Regions from separate parts of the Homo sapiens genome. Here region 1 is linked to region 2. Evidence: fine-mapped expression QTL. A gene starts in region 2. The other region holds a variant in brackets. All regions are shown on one strand. Distances are between the middles of the regions.

Region 1 (2,922 bases), 27 kb after region 2:
GTCCACAGCTCATCTGCTTTCACGCTGCCTCTTATATCCCATTTGTAATGGTAACATGATTACAAGATTTATGAATGCAGAAGGTTGCTACAGGTTAAAATGGACTGAGGCAGGTTGTCATGATGAACAATCACCTAGATTTTACTCAGACTATGCACTTTGGCACAACTGCGGGGCACAATTATTAGATTAGATTAAATCCATACATACCATCACACACATGCATATATCACACACACAAATATATTCCACAGAGACAGTCTAGAAAAATGGGCTAAAAGAAATTTACAATTGTTTATATATATACACACACACACTAGTAAAAGATTTTCTGCTGTACTCACAGTCTGTAAACATCTGGGAAAATGCCCAGCAAAAGTCACTGTGGGCCCTTTGAAATGGTGACAATGTGGGAGGGAGATGTTGGGGTGGGGAGTTAGGTTCATACTGAAAACCCCAAGAAGTGAAGAATCGTAAGTTCTGGTGGCATTTGTGGGTAATTATTTTTCACTGACATGATAAACTCATCTGGCCACTTCAAAATTATGTTTCCTATATGGAAAAGGGAATGATCAAAAAAGACTTACTGCCAGTTAACATTTTAAGAAAAATTAAGAGAATAGGAGGTGATATGTATATACATATATATGTCACTATTACAAATACCTGAATGAAAATTTCTGAATCATCTGAAAAATTCGATCTTTTTCTCTTAGGTGTGTTTTAGACTTCTATATACAGTGCACTGAAAGTCTCAGGCAGAGTTAAATGACACATACATTAACATTTTGGTACTTGACATTGATTTTTCATACAAAATTTACATGAAAAACAGATTGAACTTGTGAAAAAGAACTATCTGATTGAAGCATTACTTTTGAATTTAACATACAAAACATGTTCAAGGTCCCTTGTAATAAAACACCATTTAAAAAATAAAATACAGTTCTTAAAAAATTCTTTGAGTAACATCTATTAAACTGCCAAATGTGTCATCAGACTGTGCTTTAAGGGCCTGTAGTATTTGTTGTAGCTTTAGAATTTGTGTTTTAAAAAAATAAACAGTGACGTGGAAAATACTAATCTAATTGCTCACCTGAATACTATTTTTGTCTTTTTTTTTTCAAACTATGTGTAAATAAGTTCAAATAATCATGTTAGGCTATTATGCAGTTAAAAAATACTGGCACCAAATGACATTTCAAATAAAAGTGACTTGAGCCCATATTGTGTTTGGCTGAAGGACAAAAAAATCACTTAAAAAAAGTAGAAAATCTTGTCGTTAATCTCTAAAGTTTCATGGTGACCAGTTCCCATTGAACATTCACCAGAACTGCCATAAAAGCTAGCCATGTACTTGAAAGCTCTATTTTCATGCAAAAGTAGTAAATATCCTTCTGGTTTCATTTAACAGTCTTCATTCTCCCCCAGCTCCCACCATTTTTTAGTGCTGAATACAACACGCAGAATATGTAAATTAGATCAATTAAAGAAGTACGATTCGTAGATGTTGTGGGTGGATAAACCAGTCTACCCTTGCGGTTTTGGAAAGCATTTCTTCTTGGGTGTGGGAGTGAATTAAGGAAGAAGGATCAGAGAAGAGATTCCCGGA[C/G]TCACAGTTGCCTTGTGATTTTTTTCTCCGAGAGGATTATGGGAGTACCGAGGAGTGCTTCTAAGGGTGGTCAGTTCATGCTGTCCTTATGGCTGCTCCGGTCTGTGTTGTGGTTGTTTTGATCGTGGTTCTTCCACTGGATGCTTGTTCCGTTCATGGGGACCGAGGTCATCAGACTTTTGGACTGGTAACAGCAGCAGCAGAGGCATGACTGGGGGAAGGAACAGACTCGAAGTAAGGCGAGCCTACCAGCCCATTCCCGGCCAAACACAGCGGCCCTGGGCCATGCTAATGAGGGGCAAATGTCCATTCGCATTCGAGGGAAGTGAACCTTGACAGTAACCTAGAGTGGAGAGCCTGTTATCACCAGGCAGGAGTTACACTGTCCATTCCAGTGCAGAGAAATAGAACCCTTGTTTCTCATTTTAATTTTATTACCAAGTGCAAGAGAAAGGGAAGGCACTGTAGGTGAGAGGAAGGGCTCTCCACAGCTTGGGGCAGGCACGGGTAGGGCTGGGCTGGTGGGGGGGTCCTAGCGTTTCTTCAGTGTGCACCACCTGTGTGGCTCTCCGCACCAGGTACCTTATCAGATCCTCACAACAGCCTTGGATGTTCTCCCATTTTATGCTATTCCCCCATTTTATGAATGAGGACAGTGAGGTCCAGAGAGGATAATGAGAGTTAGAACTGGAATTAGAACCCAGGACTCTCTAGATTTGGGCTCTTTCTCTTGGATATACTGCCTTTTTAGGAAGATTCATCAAAAAGTGGGGTTAATTTCTGATAATTTTTACCTTGATTTTCCCTCCCCCAATGAATATGTAAATTAATGAGTAAGTAATAATTAATTTCACCTTATATAATGTACTAATTTTAACCTGCATGTTAGTCAATCCATTTTGGGCTGAGTGTTTTGTGACTGGCAAACATTTCCAAGAAGACCTCAGAAATACGGCCCCAAACTTCCATACCGAGTTTCATCTGTTTGTGTGATTCCTTGGTTAATATATGTCTGCCTCTGTTTAGACTGTAAGTTCCATGCAGGTCGTTACTGTGTTTTTCCTCTCTACTCTGTCCCTAATAGTAATCAACTCATATTGAGCACTTATTATTTCAAGCATTTTACATATATTACCCTCCTTATGAGAGAGATACTGTGATCATCCAATTTTATAGGTGAGGAAACTGAAAAAGCAAGAGAGGCACTACCTGGGGTAGATAGTTAGCAAGTGCAGGGCTGTAATGTCCATCGAGGCTCTTTGCTTCCAGAGCCTGCATTCTTGACCTCTACCGCACTCTGCCTCATATGT
Region 2 (2,922 bases):
TTTATTTTCTCTACATATAAACATTTCTCTTTGGAGAGCTCAGAAGATATAAATTATTATTGATTTATTTAGATAGAATGCTTTTATTTGGCTTTGTATACAAGCTAAGTGCTCACAAAAGGTATTAGATTAATGAGGCTGGAGACTAAAGTCTTCTGTTTGTCTACTTATTTGGGAAGATCTCTAAGTCATTCAGTGTAAACATGCTTGCCCTATGTAGCTAATTGACTCAAAGTTGACTCAGAAAACTTTAGAGCTTCATCTAAGAAGCCATAAAACATCAGCTACCACTTTAAATCATTGTATAAGTAGCTTCTTCCTTCCCTTTCCTCTTCATCCTTTTACCTTTTCTTCTGGGATCACCGGGAAGCCACAGATCGGTATTCTCAGACTTTTCCTCTCCTTTTTGGATCCAAATACTTAAAGTGCCCACAACAATCTCCTTTCTAGTCTTTCCTAAATTCATTTTGTTCTTCTCTCTACCTCTTCTCTTAGCCCTGTGTACTTACTTTGCTCTGTTAGTTGTGTTTAGCAACTGCTTCCTGAATTAAACAGAAAAGTGGGTATGTGGATTTCCAGTCGTATTCTGTGAAGCTCCTTACTGCATAATCTGACCCAGGAGGGGGAGCCTCTGGTCCTACCGGCCCTGTTTCTGCAAGAACAGTTTTTATCCATTATGTTTGTCTGAACACCCCTAATGAAATGTCATTTGAACAAAGGATTCTGTGGGTAAAGGGTTTGGAAATCACTGAACTAAAGAATGCTCTTGGCCCGGTTTACCGTTATACTTTGGCTCTGGCACATGTTAGGAGAACACTTTGACTGTTCAGTTATCCAGTGATGTAAATCATTATAAATGTGCATAATAACCATTATTATAACAAGATAATATGTATAATAACAGTTACTCTGTTGGTCCCTGAAGCCACATTTCCGTGTGGCCAAAAGGACAGAACTATGCAATTAGTTATTTGTCTTTGGAGCCTGTACTGGGTTGAATAGTGTTTCCCCAAATCCATGTCTACCAGAAACCTCAGAATGTAACTTTATTTGGAAATAGAGTCTTTGCAGATGTAATCAAGTTAAGATAAGGCCATACTGAATTAGAATGGTCCCTAATCCAATAACTGGTGCCTTAAAGGAAGATGGAAACTTGGACACAGAGACACAGACATACACAGGGAAGAAGCCATGTGAAGACAGAGGCAGAGATTGAAGTGATGGATCCATAAGCCAAAGATCACCAAGGATTGCCTGCAGCCACTACAAGCTAGGAGAGGGACATGGGATAGTTTCTCCTTCAGAACTTCCAGACAGAACCTTTCATTTATCTCTCTTACTTCATTACCTGCTTCCTGAGATCATTTCCCAAATAAATTACCTGTACTTTTACTCAAGTCTGTGTCCAAGACAGTGAGTACTGGAAGTGGCTGTCAATGAGTGGTGGCGGATACCTGCAGCCATAGCTCCTTGGGAGGCTGAGGCAGGAGGATTGCTAAGGCCCAGGAGTTGAAGGCTGTAGTGAGCTATGATCACACTACTGTGCTCCAGCCTGGGCAGCAGAGCAAGACCCTGTTTCTTAAAAACAAAGAAAGACAATCAGGTTGACATTGCTCAGTGGGACTGAATCACTCAACAGCCAGATAGCAACAAGAACCCTGGTGCTGGTGGAAGTAGCATCATAATAACTAAGAGTCTCAGAGAAAGTCTTGGTTAGGCTAATGCGGAACCCTTGGGGAAAGATTTCCCATTAGAGGAATCCTATGATGAGCAAGAATGGACCAGCTCTAGAAACTTTGCCATGTTTAGTCTTTGACCAGGACTATGTGGCCTTTGAGTGAATGCTGCGAAAGACCTCAAAGTTGAGGCAGCTGGAGGCTGTCAGATAACTACATTCCTCATGGCAATTTCTTCCTTTAAAGGAGATCTGAGTGGCACACCCCAACGGCTGGATGCCTAAGGCTCCGTTCTGTATGGAACTGGGTTCTATAGTGTCAATTGTGATGATGGAATTCCAGAATAGCAGAGGTCAGGGTAGTAACATTTAACCATCAGTATCATGGTGGATGTAATTATCATGCCAGGTAGAAAGACCAGAGTTGCATCTGGGGCACTGAGTCCTGCACATATCTGTGGCAGTGTCTAATAGACTATATTTTCCTTGGGGCAAATGAGATAAAGAGTGAGCTAGCACATTGCTTGGCTTATACAATCAGAAAAAAAAAAATCAAGAGTTGCTGTGAAGAAAACTGATATCAGCTACCATAGTGGAAACCTGCAATCTCTGGTCCAGTTTCCAGCTTAGTTAATTCTTTTGATCAGAGACCACCAATTGGAGAGGCTGTGTCTGCCTAATGAAAGACCCCTCAATGTCACTGCAAGCATATACAATATATCAATCCTAACTCAAAGGAAACTGTAGCTGTTTAACAGAGTAATTGTATGCTATAGAAAGAGGAAGACTTTTGAGAGCTTTTGGACATAGGATCTGAACTGATGCTGATATCAGGGGATCTGAAAATGCTTTCTTGGCTCCATGATTACAGAGGAGACATGTGGAGTCTTAGCCTAGATCTATGTTACAATATGTACAATGGGTCCAGAGACCCAACCTGTGATCATTTCCCCAGTCCTCTTGGGCATAACTGGGATTGATATTCTTTGCAATTGGAAGAATGCTCATATTGTTTCACTGACCTGTGAGTAAGAACCCTTATGGTAGGAAGAGCCAATTGGTTAAAGCAACTAGTTGGCTTCTGCTATTCTAAAATCCTATCATCCCCGAGATTGTTTCTCCAAGCCAAGACAATAAATCAGAGCAATATTATATCCTGGGTGGAATTGCAGAAATTAATACCATTTTTCAATATTTAAAGAATGCAGGAGTGGTGGTTCCTATCATATTCCCATTCAGTTTACTGC

Which allele goes with the higher level. Positions count from the first base shown, and alleles are read on the strand shown. Sizes are in standard deviations (SD) of each study's normalised expression.
In carriers of allele G in region 1, the expression in lung of the gene that starts at base 1,742 in region 2 tends to be lower than with C alone (moderate effect, 0.64 SD a copy in GTEx).

The links. PIP is the estimated chance that this variant, and not a neighbour inherited with it, causes the effect.
Region 1: its variant is fine-mapped to the expression of LINC02507 in lung (GTEx, PIP above 0.99). The same link has a PIP of 0.9 or more in ovary, prostate, tibial artery, uterus and vagina.

Annotation. Positions count from the first base shown.
Region 1 is chr4:147,541,379-147,544,300 of GRCh38, reverse strand. EDNRA (endothelin receptor type A) reads right to left here. Exons shown (of 8, transcript NM_001957.4): 8 at 1-1,823. The coding sequence ends at 1,683. Among named protein-coding and RNA genes, the nearest start is that of LINC02507, 27 kb to the left of the region's middle. The variant C/G (reference allele first, on the strand shown) is at 1,613.
Region 2 is chr4:147,568,518-147,571,439 of GRCh38, reverse strand. It overlaps LINC02507 (long intergenic non-protein coding RNA 2507), which reads right to left and starts at 1,742. Exons shown (of 4, transcript NR_187416.1): 1 at 1,382-1,742.